2 separate regions of the Homo sapiens genome follow, and region 2 is linked to region 1. Evidence: fine-mapped expression QTL. Tissue or cell type: whole blood. Region 1 holds a variant in brackets; the other region holds the start of a gene. All regions are shown on one strand. Distances are from middle to middle.

Evidence for each region. PIP is the estimated chance that this variant, and not a neighbour inherited with it, causes the effect.
Region 2: it holds the start of ASIC1, and the variant in region 1 is fine-mapped to the expression of ASIC1 in whole blood (TOPMed, PIP above 0.99).

Annotation. Positions count from the first base shown.
Region 1 is chr12:49,974,285-49,982,173 of GRCh38, reverse strand. AQP6 (aquaporin 6) reads right to left here. Exons shown (of 4, transcript NM_001652.4): 2 at 7,692-7,850; 3 at 7,348-7,428; 4 at 5,035-6,709. The coding sequence ends at 6,503. LOC105369764 (a long non-coding RNA gene) reads left to right here and starts at 6,669. Exons shown (of 3, transcript XR_001749143.2): 1 at 6,669-6,876. The variant G/T (reference allele first, on the strand shown) is at 5,175.
Region 2 is chr12:50,054,904-50,060,267 of GRCh38, reverse strand. It overlaps ASIC1 (acid sensing ion channel subunit 1), which reads right to left and starts at 2,672. Exons shown (of 12, transcript NM_001095.4): 1 at 2,352-2,672; 2 at 1,140-1,517; 3 at 314-509. The coding sequence starts at 1,501. RefSeq lists silencers at 2,470-2,639, 2,710-2,869.

The sequences.
Region 1 (7,889 bases):
ACACCAACTCAAAACTACAAAGTTTTCCAGAGCTTAGATACCTTCCAAGCTAGATGTCTGTGTGTAAGTGTGCATTCATCTAAAGACATAACTTCTTTTAATCTATAACTAAGATCTGAGGCCTGAAGACCTTCCTCTGGAACCTCAGTAAATTTACTTAATTTAAATGGGTCCAGGTGATGGGGTGATTACCCTTGTCTCCTGCTAAATCATGGAGGTTTGGGGAGTTCCTTCAGACCCCCAATAAACTTGTTTAATCCTAAACAGGCCCTGTTAATAATTCTTTTGTTATTTTGTCATGCTTTAAGCTCTAGGAAAGGCCTAGGCAAAACTCTTTTTTTTTTTTTTTGAGACAGGGTTTCGCTCTTTTTGCCCAGGCTGGAGTGCAGTGGTGCTCACCACAACCTCCACCTCCCAGGTTCAAACGATTCTCCTGCCTCAGCCTCCCGAGGAGCTGGGACTACAGGCGCCCGCCACCATGCCTGGCTAATTTTTTGTATTTTTAGTAGAGACGGGGTTTCACCGTGTTAGCTGGGATGGTCTCGATCTCCTGACCTCGTGATCCACCTGCCTCGGCCTCCCAAAGTGTTGGGATTACAGGCGTGAGCCACCGTTCCTAGCAACCTAGGCAAAACTCCTGGTGGCCGTTTGTTATATTCCAGCCTTTGTATAAGGGCACTGGCTGTCTTAGCTTTTAATATTTAACTTAACCACTCAGTGAGTACTGAAACAGTTGTTATGGAGGCCTGCATTAGTGAGACCTGGCCTGCCACACGCTGGCCTGGCTGGAGCTTGTTTCATCTGTCCATGGGGGTGGAGCGGGAGTTATTTGTCCCTGCCTTTGTCTCTGGCCTCCTCCACCTGCAGCTCTGGCAATAGCTGCCCCTTTATGGGTTTCAATCAGAGCTCTGAAACATTGTTTTTCATTTCCCCCTTTTCTGCTAATTAACTGCAGCCTATTAATTAGTGCTATTGGACTCCCCACTCCCATAAACCCCATTCACTAACCATGCCTTGCCTCCCCAGCTTTTGCTAAATATGTGACTGCGCTGTAGTGTAGCTGCCGCTCCCTGAGAAGTGATTACGGATCTTGGCTATGCTGACCCCCTGCCACAGCTGCCCAGAGAGGTCACAGCTTGGCCAGATGCTTCATCTTGATTAGCCCTTAACTTCTTCCCTCCCTTCTTCCCTCCCCATCTTCCTCTCTGACATTGAGAGGGCCTGGCACTAAGCTGTCAGTTAAAATCCCTCTTAGTATCAAGCATCGATCTCTCTTCTCGCGGCACTCCCTGGGGTTGCTCCGGGGCACAGAAAACAGCACTGTGGGGCCAGAGGAACTTAGCTGATCCCCTCCCCTGACCTGGTGGAGTCTCCCATCAAAACCCAGATCTGCTTGTTTCAGATCCCTTGACCTCATTATCGATCACAGTGATTTTGGTCTGTGTTACCCCTTTAACTCTCAGCTCTGATGTCAGCTCCCTTTTTGTTTACTTAGCTTTCATGTGAAATTCCTAATCTTCAAAGCTCTGCTTCTTTTCACCTCTTTTCCACCCCACCCAGACTTCTTACCTCCATTCCTGGAGTCTCCCAACTCTCCCAGTGTGATCACTTCAGTGCTCCACTTCTCCGTTATGAGAAGGCCCTTATTTCTCGCTCTCTTTTTTTCTTTTGAGACTGAGTCTTGCTCTGTCGCCCAGGCTGGAGTGCAGTGGCGTGATCTCGGCTCACTGCAACCTCTGCCTCCAAGGTTCAGACAGTTCTCCTGCCTCGGCCTCCCATGTAGCTGGGATTACAGGCATGTGCCACCACGCCTGGTTAATTTTTGTATTTTTAGTAGAGATGGGGTTTCACCTTGTTGGCCAGGCTGGTCTCAAACTCCTGACCTCAAGTGATCCACCCGCTTTGGCCTCCCAAAGTGCTGGGATTACAGGTGTGTGGTTAGAGCCCGGCCTCTTTCTTGTGTTTAATTCTTATGTTTTAATTCTTGACTCCTCTTCTGTGATTCCCCCTTTCCCCCAAATACACTCATAAACTCTCTCCCCCCGTCCCCCCTCAGCTCAAGCTAAGCCTGGGGTATGGGAAGGATGTGATCCCTTCTTTAGTAATAGCCCAGGCCTCATTAGAAACTGCAGGGGAAGTAGCTGAACTTATGGTAGACAGAATGCAATACCGCGATCATGATGGTGGTAAAAATAGCTACCACTGATTGAGATCTGACTGCCTGTCAGGCATGGTGTGAAACACACACACATCTCATGTAGTTCTTCCAGCTCCCTTTTGACTGTACTCCATCCTCCAGATGAGGAAAGTGAGGCTCAGGATCCTTAAGTAACTTGCCCAAGTTCACACAGCTGCTAAGTGCCTGAGCCTGTATTTAAACTCTGTCAACTCCCGATCTATGTTTATGTAGTTTTTTTTTTTTTTTTTAACTTTGGTCCGCACAATCCTTTAGGTGAAAGTGATTTTCTTTGGAATGTAAAAGCGCCCAGATCATGGTGTGACTCTACTCTTCCTTCAGTCCTAGGAGACCAAATGTGGCTCAGAGCCCTACCCCTTCCTGGCCTTTTCCCCCTTGCACAGTATGACCCCAGATGAGGCCTGTCCTCTTTATACCTGGAGGTAGTAGATCGAAGATGAAAAGTGGGGGTGGGAAGCGGAGAGGGGCTTCCTGCCAGCCAATCGGGACGCGACCGCCCAGGCTCCCAGCACAGCATCATCTGCTCCTGCTAAGACAATCATCAACATAAAAGGCTAATTGTATTAATCACCAAGGCACCCGGCCCGAGTCCCCCTCCCTTTGGGGAGAATTATGAATTGCAATTGCAGATGGCTCCACTGATTGAAGGCAGTGCTCAGCAGGGAGAAGGGTCAGATCAGATTATACACCATTAATTAAAAACTTCCCTGACAAACAGGAGGAAGGGAATGCACACCAAGGGCTGGCCTGGTTGGGTCTCTGTCCTCCCCATGTCCCCTGCCCCCACCCAGGCCCAGGGGCTATGCCAATGAAGCCTGCTTCCCCCAGCTGGAGCTACTGAGATTCAGCTCTCCAAAGGCCAGCCCTTCCCTCATCCAAACAGATGGCCTGCTGTCCTATTAAAGGGCTCCAGAGGAGGGGAAGCGAACCTTTGGTTACTTATTTCCACGTCTAACCTTGGATGCTCTTCAGAGGCTAACCTAATTCCCCACTTCTCAGGAAACTTATTTCCTCCTGCTCTGTCCTGACAGAACTGCTTTGAAGAACTGTTAGTGAAAATAGCCCCTCAGCTTTCTCTTCAGGCAACCCCTCATATTTTGGCCTGTATGTTCCTGGGACAGACATTGTGAAGCCTGCTCTGAAATTGTGGGTGGAACAGCAAATATCTGGCGATGCACCCTCTCCCCAGCCCCTGCCTGGAAGCATAGGCTTCTCAGCTGCTGTCATACTGGCTTATTTGGAGCTGTAACTCCTGAAATTTTCTCCTCTTGATCTATTACTGCCTCCCATCCTCCCCAACTGCCCAGCCTTATTCATTCATCAAACTTATATTGAGCACCCAGTGTGTGCTTGGCTCTGGGGACAAAAAGCAGTGATCATTTGTCAAGGAGCTTAAGAGCCTACCATAGGAGCTCCACGCCCCCATCCCCTTCAATCCTCTAGTTCCTGTTTCCTTCCTTCCTGGGGCTGCAGCTTGTATGAACCCCCCAGGAGCTCTATTTTGGAAAATTCTCAACTGGGAGCTGGGGAGACCTTAAGTGTTCGTGCTCCTGAACCAGGTGACCTTGAGCAAGTCAATCATGTCCTCTGTTTACACATACGCTCTCATACATGCATACATACAGACACCCAGCTCTCCCTGCTCATAAAAGGACACAGGCAGCCTTGGACTCTGAGAGATTGTGAAGATGGATGAGTGGGGCCCAGCTTGGAGAGATGTGAGTAGTATCTGCGCTGATATTACAGAACGCTGAGCACAGCTACTGGGGCTATGAGCACCAGGGATTCAGCTACTGCACTGGTCACAGGCTGGGCCTGCCACACTGCCCTTGGAAGACTTGGGCAGCCTTTCCCCCATCCCCAGTCCCTCAGGAGACATCACTAAAAAGGATCTATCTTTTGTTTGTATTTTAATTTAATTAATTTTTCATTTTAAATAATAGAGATGAAGTTTCACTATGCTGCCCAGGATGGTCTCAAACTCCTGGCCTCAAGCAATCCTCCTGCTTGGGCCACCCAACATGTTGGTGATTACAGGTTTGAGCCGTCATGCCTGGCTAAGTTTTTAATTTTTTGTAGAGGCAGGGTTTTGCCATGTTGTCCAGGCTGGTCTCGAACTCCTGGCCTCAAGCGATCCTCCCACTTTGGCCTCCCAAAGTGTTAGGATTACAGGTGGGAGCCACTGCACCAGGCCAGGACCCATCTTTTGTTTTGTTTTTTTTGTTTTTTTTTTTGAGACAGAGTCTTGCTCTGTCACCAGGCTGGAGTGCAGTGGCGTGATCTTGGCTCACTGAAACCTCTACCTTCCGGGTTCAAGTGATTCCCCTGCCTCAGCCTCCCAAGTAGCTGGGACTACAATCACGCGCCACCACGCCCGGCTAATTTTTTATATTTTAGTAGGGACAGGGTTTCACCATGTTGGCCAGGATGGTCTCGATCTCCTGACCTCGTGATCTGCCCGCCTCAGCCTCCCAAAGTGCTGGGATTACAGGCGTGAGCCACCGTGCCTGGCCGCCAGGACCCATCTTTTATATGAATTTGGCTGCTGCATCTTAGGGTACCATGGTGATGGGCGTCATAGAGATGAGAAGAACTGATTTTATTGGTTCGCCTCTTCATTCCAGGGCCCTCCCACAGCCCCTCACACCCACAAAGCCTCAAGGTCAGCAGACCCAGGAGAAGAGCACACAGGGTCCCTGGTTAAGTAGATCCAATGATGTGAGAGAAAACCCAGTCTCTCTTCCCTCCCTCTCAATCATCTTTCTCTCTCTCTTTTCCCCTCCTCCCTCTCATTACCAACAGCAATTGTCTTCATACCCAATAATTACAGTAACAGCAACAATAATCATCATTTATTGGGGTTGTTTTTCTAGCATTTTAACTTCTGAAAGTATTTTCCGATTTCTTGATTTCACAGCAGTCCCTGGAGGAGGATTGTGTGTCCATTTTACAGCTGGAGAAGCCGAGATCCAGAAAG[G/T]ACCCCCAAGTTGTGGGCAGAATAAATCTACAGCAGCTTTTAACTATTAAACCAACTTAGATTTTGGTAGTCTTTCAGAGGCACTGAATCTCAAATCTTAGTTTCCTGGGTCCCTCCTGGGTTCCTACCACCCTTAGGGCTTATTCAACAGCTTTCTGGGGATCCTGTAATGCTGACAGAGAGCCTGGAGACGGCTTCTTTGACCCAGGTCATGAGTCAATGGCTAGATGGGCACTTCCCCTCTGAGGATTGTTCCTGCCTGAGAGTGGGCTGTGGGGTGGGAGCTGGGGCAAGCACCTGGGAGGAGGCTTCCCTGGGAAAGGCCTGTCTGGCTCAAACCTCCCTTCCTCTATCCCACCTCTCTACGAGCCTGAGAAAATGTTCTTCTCTGTGTCAGTTCTTCTCAAGGGTGGGGGCCTCTCCAGAGCATTTGGAGGATTGAGGAATAAAGACCTATTGGGAGAGGCCGGGCACGGTGGCTCACGCCTGTAATCCCAGCACTTTGGGAGGCCGAGGTGGGCAGATCGCCTCAGGTCAGGAGTTTGAGACCACCCTGACCAATATGATGAAACCCCATCTCTACTAAAAATACAAAAAATTAGCTGGGCGTGGTGGCAGGCGCCTGTAATCCCAGCTACTTGGGAGGCTGAGGCAGGAGAATCCCTTGAACCCAGGAGGTAGAGGTTGCAGTGAGCCGAGATCATGCCACTGCACTCCAGCCTGGGTAACAGATCAAGATTCTGTCTCAAAACAAACAAAGATCTATTGGTAGAGCAGTCTCTGTCCTCAGGAAGCCCCCAGTCTGAAGGAGGAAATATAGCCCCCAAAACCACACCCAAGGTCAGAGAAACACCCCCAGGAGCTCAGAGGCTGTCCCAGGGCCTGATTCCTCCAGAAAGCCTGTCCTCTCTGGACCAAGGGTTTCCTGGGTGGGTAAGAAGCTGGGGCTCCCTGAGGTCCCTATAGCTCCCATGTCTAAGCAGAGTGGCTGTCTGGGCTCCCATTCCTTTCTCCCCCAAGACTTGGGCATCTGGGGTCAGGACTCCTACGGGGTCCAGTGGGTGAGAGGATGGGAGGGCGATCCTAAATCCCCTGCCTTCCTCTGCTCTGTCCCACCGAGAGGTGGGGAAGCCCTACAGAGAGGGAATGGGACAAATTCACTCCCAGATTCTACCTAGAAACGTAATGCCAGGGATAGGGCTTGTCCCCTCCAGCCCACCTGGTCAGGACAAAAGGTCAAGCCTCCCCCTCCCGCCACCCCCAGGGAGAACCTCCAGGCAGGTCCTGCAAGGCAGGAAGCCCAAGGGCGCGGCCAGGCGTAGGCTGTTTCACACACTCTCCATCTCCACGGCTCCCGAACCCGGCTGGGATTCCTTCTTCAGGGGCTCCGCCCCTGCCCCTGCCCCTGTCCCCACCTCTACGGTGCCTGTGAGGATAGCCAGCCGCTGCGCCAGGGTCTTGGTGTCGGGGAACAGGACGAAGTTGTAGATCAGTGAGGCCAGGAGGGCTCCCATCAGGGGCCCCACCCAGAAGACCTGAGGAGAAGGATGTCGTCACCCCACCCAGGAGCTATCAGGACCACAGGGTGGCTCTGGGACCGCTGCCTGCTTCCCCAGTGCCGACTTGATCTCCCAGGTCTCCCTCAACTGTCTGTAAGGTGCTAAATTTGAGAACCACGAGTCGTGTTTCCCAAGCCCACAAGGTAAGGGGACCTTGCCCCTTGCTCTCCCTGCCCTCCCTGGGGCTGAGCCCAGGCTCTGCAGCCGTGGCTGGGGCCTGGGGCCAGTCTCCTCACCCGCCCCCGCCTCTTTCCTCTCACTTCCCCCGTTTTAGCCAGGAGTCCTGGCTATTGCTGTTTCTGTCTCTGCTGGTGTGTGTGTCTATTTCTGTTTGTCTTTTTCTTTATCCAAGTTTGAAAATTGGTCCAGCTGGAGAAAGTGAATAAGGAAACAGCCAGGACTTAAAAGTCTGGGCCAAGGCTGCAGCTCCTGCCCTGGCCCATTTCTTGCCAGTCCACTGGGTATCCTGGGCAACTGAAGCCGAAAAGAAAGGAAGTCTCAGCCAAGACATTCACCCTGGCCTTCTGAGCTTAGGGAAGCTGCAAGTGAAACCCACCGTCTACAGGCAACTCAGGCTCCCTTCCCTCCCCAGGGCTGCCAGCAGAGGGGCTCACCCAGTGGACTGTGAACTTCCCAATGATGATGGCAGGGCCGAAGGAGCGGGCTGGATTCATGGAGCAGCCAGTGAAGTGGATCTGGGGAGCAAGTGCAGGGTCAGGGTGGGAGAAGGTTTAAGGCAGGCCTGAGAGGGGACCATTTCTCAGTCCTGGCTCAGAGCCTTAGCCCCAGCCACGGCCTCTGTAGTGCCATATCCTGGGCCTAGAGTGCAGGGGGTACCACTTTGGCTCCAAGGCACGAGGGGCTCAGGGAGGGACACTGCCTGGCCTTCAGGGCTCCACAGTTTCCCCGGGGACGGACCCGGTGTGTGCATGTGCACGGTGTCCCCTCTGTTCCTTACCCCAATGAGGTGGCCCAGTGCCACAGAGATCCCAATCATGGTGGCCGGGGAGCCTGATGTCTGACGGCTGTCGGTGGAAGCGAAGACACAGAGCACCAGCTGCAGGGTCAGAAGCAGCTCCACTGCCACCGCCTGGCCAGTTGAGACACTGTTCCGGACCTGGACAGAGGGAGTTACTCTGGACCAGACGCGGGCTCT
Region 2 (5,364 bases), 79 kb before region 1:
GTGGCCTAGAAGGTAAGCTTGGTGGGTTTGTGGCTATGCCAGACCACGCACGTGTGTGCATATATGTGTGTGTTGTGCACTGTAGGCTCTCTTTCCTGCCATCATGGCTGCAAGGCTGAGGCTCAGGTGCTCATGCAGTGAGTGCAAATGTGCCCCTATGCTGAACAAACTCCCCTTCTACTAGAAGCAAACCCCAGGACATACAACTTCCTCTCCCAGAGTAGCAAGCACCCGGAGAGGCCCAGCCTGCTCCTTGTCTCCTCCTCCTCCTCTGTGGGCCAGGCTGACTCACACCCCACACGAGGGGACTCACCACCTTGAAGTCTTCAGCGCTGCAGACCTCCCCCCGGAAGTGGCAGGAGAGCAGCATGTCTCGAATGTCGTGCCCAGCTCGGTCGTAGAACTCACGCATGTTGAAGGGTTTGGGTTTGAAGCTGCGGAAGTTGGCTTTGTCCTGCAGTATCTCCAGCTGCTTTTCATCTGCCATCTGTGTGTCTGGTATCTCATACCTGGGGTCCGGGGGTGAGTGACACACGGGTCAGTACAGTCATCAGTGTCCTGCACCCAACTTGGGTGATGGGGGCAGCCTCCAGCCCTGGGGATCAGTCCCAGGTGTAGGCAAGGAAGGAGAGCTGGGCATGCAGAGGCTCTACCACATGGGTCTGAAATGACAGGAGGAACTGTAGTGGCTGCCCAGGGGCAGGGCATCCCATCCCAGCACATGGGTGAGAGGAAGCATGGATAAGGTGGGCAGAGAGACAAGGCAGGGGCTGTGGCTTTTATACTGTAGTTTCTACCCTTTAAAGATGTTCTGTCCCCATCCCCCAACTGACGAGAAGGTCAAGACAGAGTGGCCAGAATGAAGGTAAAGCTCACTCCAGAGAGGGTGACAATGTCTCATACCTCAGGCTGGGTGGGGGTCGAGCTGTTCTGGACTATGCTGGGATCGGAGGCTGGGTGCCCTTAACTGGGTGCTCAGCAGCACCCTAACTCCTCTGCTGTGAGTGGCAGGTTTGGGGGTGGGGGTGGGTTAAAGGGCAGGGTTGGCTGGGCTCTATGGTGGGTCAGGGAGGCAGACATCCTGACTGGAACTCAAGCAACTCCAGGAGCAGGGCTGAGGGAGGGTGGGAGCCACCCACCTGTTGTTGAGCAGGGCCAGCAGCTCCCCAGCATGATACAGGTCATTCTTGGAGACTTGGCTAAAGCGGAACTCGTTGAGGTTGCACAGCGTGACAGCAGGGAAGGTAAGCTGAGAGGCAGCCACCTCGTCGAGCTTGGTGACATGGTGGTAGTGGAAGTAGTACTGCACACGCTCCGTGCACACACACAGCAGCACAGCCAGGGAGCCCAGGAAGCACAGGGCCCACAGTGCCCGCTTCAGAGACAGCCGCTCGTAGGAGAAGATGTGGGCCAGGCCGTGCAGTGTGGAGCTGCTGGCGAAGGCCTGGATGCTCACCGGCTGGACGCCACCCACCTCCTCCTCCTCGGCCTTCAGTTCCATCCTTGTTGAGGGGATCCTGGGGGAGGAGGGAGGGACAGTCTATCATTGTCCTGGGATGAAAGTACACATGGAGCCCCTCCACATGTGCCCATCCAGAATCCTCATCTCCAGAGGTCACCACTCCTCGGGCAGAAGACTTCCCTGCTTTGCAAGCCCAGAGGTGGCTGACCAAGGGACACATCCAGGGTTCCTCCAAATACAGAGGCACAGGGGGTCAGGTCAGGCCAAGAGAATGCTCCCCAGAGAAGCTTCCCAGGCCCGGGGAGACCCCAGATATAGTCATCCGAGGTTGAGGGGGAAGTCCTGATGCACCCATAGGCAGGCGCAGGAGTTCCCTCCAGATGTGGGGTCACTCTGGGACAAGAATATCCACCCCATCCTGGAGATGAAAACTCACCCAGATGGGCTGACCCCGGGGTAAGGAGCTCCTGTCCTGGTCACGGGTATTCCCTGGACGGGGCTGTGGTCCTAAGGGCTAAACTGGGGCCAGAAAACCCCCAGGGAGGTGGCTACATCTAGGGAGGGGCCCAGCCTGAGTCCTCACCTGCGGGTGTCTCCAGTTCTCACATAAGCGCAGGCTGTGTGTATGTTGGGAGTGGGGGGTGGCGGGCTGCCCGAGGTGGATGTATGGAGGGGGGGCGCGGTTCCCTATGACAGCGAGCTGTCCCCGCCCCGGACGCAGCCCCCCCCAGTCCAGCTTCTCGTCGCAGTCAGATCCCCAGCTCGGCCCCCGCCCCCCTCCCCAGCCACCGAGCCGCCCCAGCAGCAAGGGAAATCCAGAGGGAGGAGAGTCCCGGCTTCGGGGTACCGAGGAGCCTCGCGGCCAAAGGCAGGGGTATCGGAAACCCACCTGAGGGGGCTTCGGCAAGCCGGCAGCCGGCGGCGGGTCCTGGGGCGCTGGACCGGTGGCGGGCTCAGCGCCGAGTCGCGGAGGGGCTCATGGCCCGGGGCCGGAGCCCGCGGCCGCCGCGGCACGCCGCGCAGAGCCCTGCAGGGAGCGCCCCGCCCGGCCCCGCTCGGCTCCGATCTGTCCGCCCGCCCGCGCGCGCTGGCTCGCTGGCTCGCTCGCCTCGGCTCGGTCTGCCCGGGCTCGGCGCGGTGCGCGGTGCTCTCAGCCCTGGGATCTGCAGGGATCCATCGTCCGGCCGGGAGGCGGCGGGAGGGGAGGGGGAGGGGAGAGGGTGCGCGTGCGCGCCTACGAGTGTCTGCGAGGCTGTCTCTGGGCTGGTGTGCGCGCGGGGCCCCGGATCCGGGAGCGGGACCCAGGGCTCCCCGCGCCGCCTCGCCCCTCCTCGCGGCCGCTTTCGGCGGCGCTGCCTCTCTCCAGTCCCGGAGCCGTCTCCCTGCCTGCGAGGCCCTATGGCTTGTGTGTATGACTCTGTGTGTGGTGTGTGTGCGCGCGCGCGTGTGTGCGCGCAGGAGGGAGGGTGTCTGCCCCTAGCGTCCCTCTCCCCGCGCTGTCTCCTTCGGATCGATGCTCCTGCCTCTTGCTGCTGCTTCCTCTGGTGGCACACACGCGCGTACACACACACATACACACACACGCTCCGAGTCACACTTGACTAATTCAAGCACTTAGCCCATATGGAGACAGACACACATACCGACCAGAGTCACACCACACCATTCACAACCACACCCCCCCGCAACAGATGTCCACGTATCCCGGGGGCCTGACCCACATGGCAAGCACTCACCTGCTCTTATCCCTGCTCCCACCTGCATGTGACACATATACACGTGCACATATGTGAGCCAACACGCAGCCTTGACCACTCAGATCCCATCCTTGTAGCTTTGGGCTTGTGGGGGGCATGGTCGCAACCCCTTACTGCCAAATCTCCAAAGAAGGAGCAGAGAAAAGGAAGGAAAAATAGCCAGAGGTCAAGGGAATTTGGACAGAAGGAAGGAGGCAAAGGGAGTGAAGGGGACAGGGTGAGGAAGGGTTGGAACGGGGAGCTATGCTCAGGGATGGAGCAGAAGTCTCAGCACAGAACGCAGGCCTGGGGGCTGCTCCTGTGGCTCTCACCTTTCTCCTTCCCTGCCTCCCTCCTCTTCTCTGAGAGGCCTTGGGGAGGGGGGCCCTCCCTATCCAATTAACAGAGAAGGAGCAATCAAGGGGAAGTTGTTAATTTGCTGATGCTCATTAGGGGCTCTTAGCACAGAGGCTGTTGAGGTCTGATGGTGTCAGATGATGAGGAGGAGGGTGCGGGGGACCAGAGTTCTGTCTCTAGTGGCTCCTTCGCTCTACTTGCAGGCTGGTGCGGCTCGGGGAGAAGGATGGTGAGAGGTGTATTCCTAGGACATGGTGCCGGGCTTTAAGTTAGAAGAAAACCTGTAACGAGAAGGGGATGGCACATTGGAAAGAAGTTGGATGAGAAGTTGGGAGTAGTGGACATCTAGGAAACCAGAGAAGGGGTCTGGAGGTCCCTAGTGGGAGAGTGGACTTAAGATTGTGGAGGAGGGAGGTCGAGATCCATTTACTAGGGGACTGGACACGGAGCTGCCAAAAGGAAGGGAGGATCTTCCATTCAGGTCTTGGGGAGCTGTTCAGCGGTACCAGGCAGTGCTGGAGGGTTGCTATGCCCCCGGGCAGCCACTGGGTGGCAGCCCTCTCCCAGATACTTAGAATCAACTCGTGGGGGGCATTTGAGAGTGGGAAATCACCTGGGAGGGTCCCAGAGACCTGAGGAAGCATCAGGCAGAGTCTGATTCCTGAATTCCAAATATCCTCAGGGGGAGGGGAACACTATTTTGGAGCATCTGTAATTTCCCCACCTCCCCGCGGCTCGCAGGCTGACTGACACGTGGAGCCTCTTCAAATGGCTGCAATTGCTTCAGTCACCTGGGATGTTACTGAGGGAGCAGCGGGGGTGGAGGGAAGGTGATGAGGTGAGGTGGAGGCAGGCGAGGACTGATTGAGGCCAAGGAGCAGCCTCAGGAGGAGTCTGGGGGAAGACAGAAGGTATGAATCAGGAGAATCAGCTTCCAGACCTGGCCCTGCCATTCATTAGCATAGGCAGGCCCCTTGACCTCTCTGGACCTCGGTTTCCTCATCTGTAAGGCAGAGATAATATTTATTTCACAGGATTTTTCGAGGATTACATGAGCTAACGCATGGAAAGTGCTTAGTACATTGGCATGTACCTAGTAAATCCCAATAAGTAAATAACTATTATTAGTATTAGCATTTGGATCTAGTGGTAAAACCACCAGTGCAGCCAAACCAGGGCAGAATCTAAGGCACTGGTTCTTAACCCAGGCTGCACATTCGAATCACCTGGGGAGCTTTTAAAACTGCAATGCCAGCTGGGCGCGGTGGCTCACTCCTGTAATCCCAGCACTTTGGGAGGCAGAGGAGGGTGGATCGCCTGAGGTCAGGAGTTTGAGACCAACCTGGCCAACATGGTGAAACCCATCTCTACTAAAAATACAAAAAGTAGCTGGGCGTGGTGGCGGGCACCTGTAATCCCAGCTACTCGAGAGGCTGAGGCAGGAGAATCATTTGAACCTGGGAGGCGGAGGTTGCAGTGAGCCGAGATTGTGCTATTGCACTCTAGCCGGGGAGACAAGAGCGAAACTCCATTTCAAAAAATAAAAATAATAAGATAAAACTGCAATGCCAGCCAGGCGTGGTGGCTCACGCCTGCAATCCCAGCACTTTGGGAGGCCGAGGTGAGTGGATCACCTGAGGTCAGGAGACCAACCTGGCCAACATGGTGAAACCCTGCCTCCACAGAAAATACAAAAATTAGCCAGGCGTGGTGGCACGCACCTGTAATCCCAGCTACTCAGGAGGCTGAGGCAGAAGTGCTTGAACCCGGGAGACAGAGGTTGCAGTGATCGGAGATCGTGCCACTGCA